2 separate regions of the Homo sapiens genome follow, and region 2 is linked to region 1. Evidence: fine-mapped expression QTL. Tissue or cell type: whole blood. Region 1 holds a variant in brackets; the other region holds the start of a gene. All regions are shown on one strand. Distances are from middle to middle.

Region 1 (5,636 bases):
CAAATTATCCTGAAAAACTGCTTCAGGCCATGAGGGGAAATGGGAATCAGAGCAGCCTCACAAACATCAACACAGAGACCTTCAGTCTCCTTGAGTCTGATAAGCATTTACCATCTATTCTCTCCCAAGTCTTCTCCCTGGAGGCTTCATCTGCAATAAACCTTGCTCTCTACAACCTCTCATCTTAACCCAGGGATTCCTTTCTGTTTGATTCCAGGTCTTTAGATAGTAAGTCCTTCACCAATGGCCAATCAGAAAATCTTTAAATCTACCTGTGACCTGAAGCCCTCCACCTCCTCATGTTGTTCAGCCTTACCAGACTGAACCAATGTACATGTTACATGTATTGATCGATGTCTCATGCCTATTTAAAATGTATAAACCAAGCTGTGGGCTGGGCGCAGTGGCTCATGCCTATAATCCCAGCACTCTGGGAGGCCGAAGCGGGTGGATCACTCGAGGTCAGGAGTTTGAGACTAGCCTGGCCAACATGGTGAAACCCCATCTCTACTAAAAATACAAAAAATTAGCCAGGCGGGGTGGTGCGTGCCTGTAATCCCAGCTACTTGGGAGGCTGTAAAAAGTTAAGTAGAGCTTCCTCTTCAAAAACTTTCCTCCCCATCTAATTAGGAATAAATAGTAACTTCTCTTAGAAGCAAAATTTATTCAAAGACCTGTGCTAACATTCTTAAATATCTGCTAGCCATAATAAATAAATGAATGTACTTTTTTTTCTTAGCTCCCACAAGTTAGCCTAAATATTTGCCCTGGCATACTTATACTGGTCCCAGCAAGCATTAGGTCACAGTCTGTTCCTCTTCCTTATTTGAAGGTGTTTTTACCTTTCTCAGCATTCCACAAATTACTTCCTCCTTCCTTTGTTCTCCTCTGCCTTTGCCTCTTTTGAAAAGTTCTAAGTTGCTAGCCAATCGCGACCAATACAGAATGTGAGGTCCCGTTCCAGCCAATGGAAACCAGACACAGCAGTCGGGGGGACGCGTCAGGTTATAAATGACCCTGTCTCCTTTGTTCGGTGTACCTTCACGGCAAAACTGCTGGCGAGTGTGCCCTTTCTGCAGAAAGTAAGAAATGGCCTTGTTGAGTAAATTAAATTTATGTTCCAGTGCTATTTCTTTACAGCACCGGGGAACAAGCATTTCAAACAAGGCTGAGGCAGGAGAATCGTTTGAACTGGGGAGGCGGAGGTTGCAGTGAACTGAGATCTTGCCACTGCACTCCAGCCTGAGTGACAGAGTGAGGCTCTCGTCTCAAAAAAAAAAAAAAGAAGGTGAAGAAGAATTTTTGTGTGTGTGTGTGTGTGTGTGTAGGGTTTAAATAGTTAACTAATATTTTGTACATTGTGTGATCAGGTATCTACTTTCTTATCTACATGGTGTGAAATGAGTTTGTGTGTGTGTGTGTGTGTGTGTGTGTGTGTGTTATAAAATGAACATGTGTTAAATCAGAGACTTGAAGTGCCTGAGACTTTGCTCTGCTCACAAGCTAACAAGCTAGCCAGCCAATTTCACACATACGTGGACACGGGAAACATCAGTTCCCGTGGGTGGACGGGACGATGTGGGTGGAACTTGGACAGGCAGCAGGTGCATGTTGGGGAAGAACCCCAAGTTTAGGAAACTCTCTTATCCTTTTTTGTTTTTTCAGACGGAGTCTTGCTCTGTCGCCCAGGCTGGAGTGCAATGGCACAGGCTCGGCTCACTGCAACCTCCCCGTCCCGGGTTCAAGCGATTCTCCTGCCTCAGCCTCCTGAGTAGCTGGGATTATAGGCGCGTGCCACTACACCCAGTAATTTTTGTATTATTAGTAGAGATGGGGTTTCACCATGTCGGCCAGGCTGGTCTCGAACTCCTGACCCTGTGATCCACCCGCCTTGGCCTCTCAAAGTGCTGGGATTATAGCTGTGAGCCACCGCACCCGGCTGAAACTCTTTTTTCCTTTATGTGGCTGCTGGGGGCCTCCTCATCCTCGCTTCCAGAGAGACAAACCTGGTCTCTTCTCTGGTGTGTAAGTAAGCCTTCTCCAGGGACAGAGGTAGGTGGGAGGCGTTGTAGGGGTGGAGGAGGTCTTTGTCCTAGAGACGGGGTTTCACCGTGTTGGCGAGGCTGGTCTTGAACTCCTGACCTCAAGTGATCCACCCGCCTCAGCCTCCCAAAGTGCTGGGATTACAGGCGTGAGCCACCTTGCACAGCCTGGACAAACATTCTTAACGTGGTTTCAGTGACTCTGAGGACCTGGACCGTGGAGAAACATGAGGTGTGGAAAATTGCCTCCCAATAGGGTCTAACCTGCTTTAAGACTGTGAGATGGAGGCTGGGCGCGGTGGCTCACGCCTATAATCCCAGCACTTTGGGAGGCCGAGGCGGGCGGATGGATCACGAGGTCAGGAGATCAAGACCATCTTAGCTAACACAGTGAAACCCCATCTCTACTAAAAATACAAAAAATCAGCC[G/A]GGCGTGGTGGCAGGCACCTGTAATCCCAGCTACTCGGGAGGCTGAGGCAGGAGAATCGCTTGAACCTGGGAGGCGGAGGTTGCATGAGCCAAGATCGTGCCATTGCACTCCAGCCTGGGCAATAGAGCAAGACTCTGTCTCAAAAAAAAAAAAAAAAAATGCCAGGCGTGGTGGCTCACGCCTGTAATCCCAGTACTTTGGGAGGCTGAGGCGGGCAGATGACGAGGTCAGGAGATCGAGGCCATCCTGACTAACACGGTGAAACCCCATCTCTACTAAAAATACAAAAAATTAGCCTGTAGTCCCAGCTACTCAGGAGGCTGAAGCAAGAGAATGGCGTGAACCTGGGAGGTGGAGCTTGCAGTGTGAGTGGAGATCGCACCACTGCACTCCAGCCTGGGCGACAGAGCGAGATTCCGTCTCAAAATAAAATTTAAAAAAAAACTTTGAGATGGGTATTTAATGTTTTTGCCTGTCTTTTGGCAGGTAGGTATTGTGTGTGTGTGTGTGTGCGCGCGCACATGCCTGTGTGTAGTGTATGTGTCTAATTTCTCTGTGGGTATGACTGATATCTAACATTTTGTGTATAGTGTGGCATAACTACTTTGTGTATGTTATCAAATTTTTATTGAATATGTTGGAAATGAGCATCTATCTTTGTTTTTTGTTTTTGTTTTGTTTTTCTTTTTGAGATGGAGCTCCTTCTGTTGCCCAGGCTGGAGTGCAGTGGCGCGATCTCAGCTCACTGCAACCTCCACCTCCTGGGTTCAAGCGATTCTTCTGCCTCAGCCTCCCGAGTAGCTGGGATTACAGGCGCCTGCCACCACGTCTGGCTAATATTTGTATTTTTAGTAGAGACGGGGTTTCACCATGTTGACCAGGCTGGTCTGGAACTCCTGACCTCAGGTGATCCACCTGCCTCGGCCTCCGAAAGTACTGGGATTACAGGCGTGAGCCACTGCACCCAACCAATTTTGTTCTTTTTAAGGTTGTTTTGGCTATTCTGAGTCCCCTGAATTTCCATATAAATTTTAGGATCAGCTTGTCAATTTCTGAAAAAAGCTCATTAGGACTTTGATATGGATTGTGTTGAATGATTAGGTTGGAGACACCTTAACAATATTGTCTTCCCACCACGGACGCAGGACATCTTTCCATTTACTTAGACCTTCTTTAGATTCTTTTGGTCATGGTTTGTAGTTGTAGCTTTCAGAATATTAGTTTTGCACTCTTTGGCTACATTTATTTGCTTTTTAAAATTATTAGACTTTATGTTTCAGAGCAATTTTAGATTTACAGAAAAATCTATCAGAAAGTACGGCGTTCCCATATACCCCTCTCTCCCCCAAACCCTGCACTCCACTTCCCTGTTATCTACATCTCGCATGAGTTTGGTACTTTTGTTAGGATTGATGAACCGATATCGACACGATCTTCTTAACCGAAGTCCATCCTGAAGTCCACACTGGATGCTCTTTGTGCGGTGTGTTCTATATTGGTTAGTTAGTTAGTTTGTTTGAGACAGAGTCTCCCTCTCTCGCCCAGGCTAGAGTGCAGTGGTACGACCTCGGCTCACTGCAATCTCCGCCTCCCGGGTTCAAAGGATTCTCCTGCCTCAGCCTCCCAAGTAACTGGGATTATAGGCATGTGCCACCACGTCCGCCTAATTTTTGTATTTTTAGTAGAGACGGTTTTGCCATGTTGGCCAGGTCTCAAAACTCCTGACCTCAAGTGATCCGCCTGCATCAGCCTCCCAAAGTGCTGGGATTACAGGCGCGAGCCACCGTGCCTGGCCGTTGACATTCGATGTTTAACCTACACAGTTAACTGCACATTATTCCAAGATAGGCCAAGTCCATGCAGTGTCTCCAGGCTCTTCTGAGCAGGCCGGGGCTTTAGAGCGTGCTCCCTGCTCACCACACCACACGCAGCTTTCTGGTGGTCATTGCTGAGTTTTAGTTTTGTGTAAAAACACGCACACACAGGCCGGGCGCGGTGGTTCACGCCTGTAATCCCAGCACTTTGAGAGGCTGAGGCAGGCGGATCACCTGAGGTCAGGAGTTCGAGACCCGCCCAACCAACATGGTGAAACCCCGTCTCTATTAAAAATACAAAATTAAACTCCGTCTCTACTAAAAATACAAAAAATTAGCCGGACATGGTGGCACATGCCTGTAATCCCAGCTACTCAGGAGGCTGAGGCAGGAGAATCACTTGAGCCCGGGAGGCGGAGGTTGCAGTGAGCCGAGATCGCGCCACTGCACTCAAGCCTGGGGGACAAGAGCGAGACTCCGTCTGAAAACAAACAAAACAAAACAAAAAACTACACACACACACACACACACACACACACACACACACACAGGTGAACGGCTGGAATTATTTCTCCGGCGATGGTTAAATGATACTTGGGTTCAGTTGTTGGTGATGTGCCAGCTGCTCAGGGTCTGGTTCTTCTGACTCTTTTGTGGGCGTCCTGCCTCCCCATATCCGGCATCCTACCAGGCGTCCGAGCATGTTCCTAGCACGGTGTTTGCGTCTCCACCTGCAGAGTCAGGTTAGTCCTCAAGTCTGAAGCTCCTCACGACTCTCTCTTCCTCTGCTCTTGTGAGATCATCACGTCTGCGATTTCAGCCCTGCCTGGCTCCCCTGCGCTTCCACTGCTTCCCTGCCTCCCTGTCCTCAGCAGCGTCACTTACAGCCACACCAAGCTCTTCAACTGGTTTGTGAATTACCTCATGGACTGGTTTTCGTGTGTGTCCAGGACTATAAATTTTATTTCCAAGATTTCCACCTGGTTGATTGAAACAGGCATTCACTGATGCGTTCACCCAACAAACTCCCATGAGGCCTCCTCTGCAGGGCACCTGCGGGCACTTCCGGCTCCCAGAGGGGCCTGGCGTCTGGAGGGAGAAGTGGAAGGAGACTGAAGGGCGCCTGAGGTGGGCAGGCGGCACAAGCAGCAAGCGAGGGCGGCAATCTTTTTTTTTTTTTTTTTTGAGATGGAGTCTCGCTCTGTCGCCCAGGCTGGAGTGCAGTGGCACTATCTTGGCTCACTGCAACCTCTGCCTCCTGAGTTCAAGCAATTCTCCTGCCTCAGCCTCCCAGGTAGCTGGGATTCCAGGTGCCCACCACCACGCCCAGCTAATTTTTTTTGTATATTT
Region 2 (5,000 bases), 23 kb before region 1:
TGGTCAGAGACCCCTGGTATCCAGAGCCTGGGTCTGGGATGAGGGGCTCTTAAGAGGTTCTGAGGGATCCTGCAAACAGCCCCTCTGGACGCCAGGACAGGATGTGAAAGTATCTTGCTCACTCAAAGCTCACCTTAACCAAATGTCCTGAAAAGCTTATAGGCTGCTTCTCCCTTTGGCCTTATATTTGCAAACGAACTCATTTTACAAACTGGGGCTCCAAGCCTAGATTTGCTCAAGGCACATAACTGGGAAGTAGCAAATTCAATCTGTCCATTGCAAACCACCAGGCCAAGGGTTTGGGTTGTTGGCAAGCTCACAGCCAGGAGGGGCGAGAAGCCCAGGAAGCCTGCTGGGGAGGGAAGTGGCTCAGGCACCACAAGACCACCTCCCTGCACAACTCAAACAGCACTCAGGCCCTGTGCTCAGGAGGTCACATCACCAGACTTTTAGTCCCAAGTCTGACCTGGCCACTTCCTGGGATCAAAGGGAGGATTTGTGAAATGGCAGGTTGGGGCGAGGGGTTATTGTGGAGGAGGACCCAGCTTCCCAACTGTAAGGGCGTCAGTCAGTGCCTACCCCTCCCCATCCAGGGGTCTGGGCTGCTGAGAGCAGCAGCCTAGAACTCAGAATCAAGACAACCCCAGTACTCATGAGGCCCCCAGCTGACTGACTCCATTACAGACGGCCTTTGGGGCTCCCCACCTGGATGCCCCAGACAGAACAGGCAGCGCGCATCTGTCCTTCCCACTGTGTTTACATGATGCATTCTGGGTCTGTGAATGGTAATGTGGATTCTTTTGAAACCCCCTCCCTGTCTTCCACCTCACGTGAACTGGGAGGTGGACAGAACTTCAACCTAGGAATTCCACAACCAGCGACAGCAAATGAGGAGCCGGAGTATCACACAACACAGGAAGCTTTATTCATCCGCTGCTGGTCCAAAGAGTGGGTCGCAGGGTCACTCACTTTAATATGCTGTCATCTTGGGCCGGAAGGTTAGAAGAAAAGCACATGTTACCACTCAGGCAACCTAAAAAGACCACTTCAGCTTCCCAGTTATTTTTTTTTTTTTTTTTTTTGTTTTGAGACGGAGTCTCGCTCTGTCACCCAATGGCGCAATCTCAGCTCACTGCAACCTCTGCATCCCAGGTTAAAGCGATTCTCCCACCTCAGCCTTCTGAGTAGCTGGGATTACATGCACCCGCCATCATGCCTGGCTAATTTTTTTTAGACAGAATTTCACTTTGCTGCTCAGGCTGGAGTGCAGTGGCGTGATCTCAGCTCACTGCAACCTCCGCCTCCCGGGTTCAAGCAATTCTCATGCCTCAGCTTTCTGAGTAGCTGGGATTACAGGTGCCTGCCACCATGCCCGGCTGATTTTTTGTATTTTAGTAGAAATGGGGTTTCACCATCTTGCCCAGGCTGGTCTCGAACTCCAGAGCTCAGGCAATCTGCCTGTCTCAGCCTCCCAAAGTGCTAGGATTACAGGCATGAGCCACCGCACCGGGCCATGCCCGGCTAATTTTTGTAGAGACAGGGTTGCACCATGTTGGTCAGGCTGGTCTTGAACTCCTAACCTCAGGTGATCTGCCCGCCTTGGCCTCCCAAAGTGCTGGGATACAGGCATGAGCCACCACGCCTGGCCAGCTTCCCCATTTTTAAACAATCCGCATCTACTTAGCTCTGCTTAAATGTCCTCCTCCATTTTCCTTATCCCTGCACAAACCTGGGAGGGACAATCTATAAGAGCCAGTGTCACTCGTACCTTCTGCCAATTCTCTGGCAATCCGTTTCAGTTCATCCTGCTTCTTCTTCTCTTCTGCTGCTATCCTCCTCTCCTCTTCTGCCCGAGGTTTTAGGTAATCTGTTTGGCGGAATGCAGGAGAATAAAATTCACTGGAAATGCTGTACAAAAGGAACTGAGTCCACAGGTCAAGGTATCTTCAGCGACGCTGTAAACCAGACGCACCTGCTGTTCCCGCTCTTTATGTTAATGCGAGTCAACGCCTGACCTTCACCCTGACGAGTCCAACCCAGAGGCTACAGGGCCCCTGCTGCCCACCCGCTCACGCACTGGCTCACTCGTCCTCTGCGAACAGGGACTGCCTCCCATCAAGACCTCAGCACTCGAACAGCCATTTAGCACCCGTTTTCACCAAGAAGCAGCCGTTTTCGAGTCCCCCGCCCGGGCCTCAGAAGCCTGAGCTTTGGGTGAGCTGATTCCACTATCGGGGTCACGCTCGGTGGAGGACACGGTCCTGCAGCCTCGCATGCGTCCCAAGCCCCCTTCCAGAGCTGGAGTTCTCCAAATAGCACAGGAGCTCCACAGGAAAGCCGAGCAGACCCCGCCCCGGCCCCGCCCGCGGTCACTCACTGTAGCGCGTGGCTCCGTAGGCCACACCGAGGAACAGGGCGGAGTAGCGGCCGAGCTGCGAAAGAGGTTGGTCAGAGGCGGCGCGAAACGGGGCTCGCGGGACGGGGGTCGCGGGAGGAGGGGGGGCGGGGTCGCTGGGCAGAGGTCGCAGGAGGGGTGGGGGTCCGGTCGCCGGGCGAGGGTCACGGGGCGAGGATCATGGGGGCGGGGGCCGGGGGTCGCAGCCCGCGGGGTCGGAGCTGCGGGGCGGGACACGGGGGGGCCCAGAGCACTGGGCGGCGGCTGCAAAGCCTGGATCACCTTGATGAGCGGAGAGACCTGCACCGGTGGCACCATCTTGTCCCTGACCTCCGCACCGGAAGCACAACCTGCAGACGGAGCAGGATGCCGCACAAGCCAGCAAAGCCTTGGAGGCAAAGGCGGAGCTGGGCGCACGCATGCGCCGTCAGCGGCGAGAGAGCGGGGGGCCGCGCCCCCTGGCGACCGAAGGGTGACTGCGCGCCCCCGCGCGGCGGTGACGTCACGTGAGGCGCACGCGCACAAAGGCTGGGGAGTGCGCGGAGGATCATCGGCTGCGCCTGCGCAGTTGCTGCGTGAGGCGGGATCTGCGCCGAGTGGGCGGGGGGTTTCCTTTCCCCGCAGGGCTGGGGGTCCGCTGTTTCCCCGCGCTGCTGCCGAGGCCCCGCCGTCCGCGTCCTGGCCGTGTGTCCACACCCCAGACTGCGGGCCGGGGCGCACTCTGTCTTCTTGCGCGGAGCGTCGGAGGCCTGAGGTCAGGGCGGCTCGGGCGGGTCCAGCCCCGCGGACCGCGCCCACCCGAGGGTGGCCTGGGCAGGGACCTGGGGGTCCTGGGAGCGGAGTGTGAGCCGAGTGCAGGTGGCTCCCCGGGCAGGTCCTTCTCCTACAAGGCAGTAGTGTCTGTCGCCGGCCGGGCCGCGTTGGATTCCGCGGCCCGCGGGAGCATGGCCTCCAGGCCCCTCTTCCTGCGGCTGCTCTGCCCGGGAGCACGGGGCGCCCTTCATCCCGGAGCTGGAGCTTCCTCACCCCAGGATGCCCCATCACTTCTGTCCCGAAGAGGGGCTGGGATCTTCTTGGGAAGACCAGCCCCCAACAGAGGCTGCTCCCTGGGTCCCCCGACTCCAGGCCTCAGGACTCCACGGCTCCAAGGGCCTGCCCCGGCCCAGGCCTGGGGACCACTGAGCCCCACACTGGTCTTTGCTGGCCTCTGTCCACCTCCCGGTAGCTGTGTGTCTCCCACAGCTGCCCAGAGATGGGGCCTGCGGTGCCTATGCAGCCTCCCCGCTGTGCCCGAAGTGCTGACCCGCCAGCCCCATGGACACCAGGCTTGGAGTCTAGGCAGGAGCCTGGCACCCCCTCCACGTTCTGGGTCTTCCTGGCGGCAGCCATGCTGCCCGTGCTGGGCCACCCTCGGGCCCCCTTTGGCCCCATGCAGTAGTGACGCAAGGCCTCCTGTGTCCCCTCCTGGCCCTGCACTGCTACAGGCAGAAGCAACTGGAGAACTATGGCTCGGGTCTCGCTAAGGTGCAGCATCACAAACTCCAGGACTCTTGAAGCAAGCATGGGGAGGACCCGTGATCCTGGCGGCCTGGGCTACCTGTCCGGGCCTAAGTCGCCTCTGCCCCCTCTCCTGGCTTGCTCTGGGGTCCAGGGCCTGGGCCTCTCTGGCTGAGAAACTAGGAAGTCACTGGGCTCTGTTTCCTGAGCTGGGTATACCAAGGCCAGTCCTATAGGGCAGGGGTCCCCAACCCCCAGGTGCAGACCAGTACCAGCTTGTGGCCCGTTAGGAACCGGGCAGCACAGGACGAGGTGAGGGAGCATGATTGCCCGAGCTCCACCCACTTTCAGATCAGCCTGGGCATCAGATTCCCATAGGAGCGTGAACCCTACTGTGAGCTGCGCACTTGGATCTGGATTGCGCTCTGGTGAGAATCTAATGCCTGATGAACTGAGGTGGAATAGTTTCATCCCGAAACCTTCCTCCCCAACACGGAAAAACTGTCCTCCGTGAAACCTGTCCCAGGCGCCAAAAAGGTTAGGTACTTGCTGTAGGGCCACCTGATCTTTTCTCCAGCTTCTGTGAGGTTGGCTGGCAGTCCCTGAAGACTCCTGCCTGAGGCCTCTGCCTGAACCCTGTCCTCAGGGGGCCAGAAGCAAACTCCAGCCCTCCCCGTGTCTACTGCTCGCTGAGGAAGCCGCAGGTGCACACTGGATCCACAAGGCACAGAACCATCTTGGCCCTCGGCAAGCCCCCGCTTCCGCCAGGGCAGACGGCCTCAGGTGACAATGGGTTTTCCCTTCACTGGAGTTTAAAATAATCCAGACTCCTCAGCAACTCCTGCTTCCAGAATCAAAAATAAGTGTCTCTGGGGCCCAAGGTAGGGGGTGAGGGGGACATACCAGCAGCTTCCACCAGAGGTGGGGCGGGGCAGGGCACCAGCAGAGAAAACATGCGGGCAAACACACACGGCCTGGGGAAAACCCCCTGAAGCCAATGGAGACTTGCCTTTGCTCAAGGCCTTTCCTGAGAGCTTAGTGGTGGGACGGGTCCCACCTGGCTCAGCACACCGCCCGCAGGGGCCTCTGCAGCTGTCAGGTCAGCTGT

Evidence for each region. PIP is the estimated chance that this variant, and not a neighbour inherited with it, causes the effect.
Region 2: MYL5 starts here. The variant in region 1 is fine-mapped to the expression of MYL5 in whole blood (TOPMed, PIP above 0.99).

The regions. Positions count from the first base shown.
Region 1 is chr4:693,725-699,360 of GRCh38, forward strand. No RefSeq gene overlaps it. Among named protein-coding and RNA genes, the nearest start is that of SLC49A3, 7.4 kb to the left of the region's middle. RefSeq lists an enhancer at 1,105-1,605. The variant G/A (reference allele first, on the strand shown) is at 2,472.
Region 2 is chr4:671,535-676,534 of GRCh38, forward strand. It overlaps MYL5 (myosin light chain 5), which reads left to right and starts at 3,008. Exons shown (of 9, transcript NM_002477.2): 1 at 3,008-3,149; 2 at 4,539-4,675. ATP5ME (ATP synthase membrane subunit e) reads right to left here and starts at 2,742. Exons shown (of 4, transcript NM_007100.4): 1 at 2,678-2,742; 2 at 2,378-2,432; 3 at 1,769-1,867; 4 at 902-985. The coding sequence starts at 2,713. The coding sequence ends at 966. RefSeq lists enhancers at 2,874-3,631, 3,509-3,578 and a silencer at 3,029-3,298.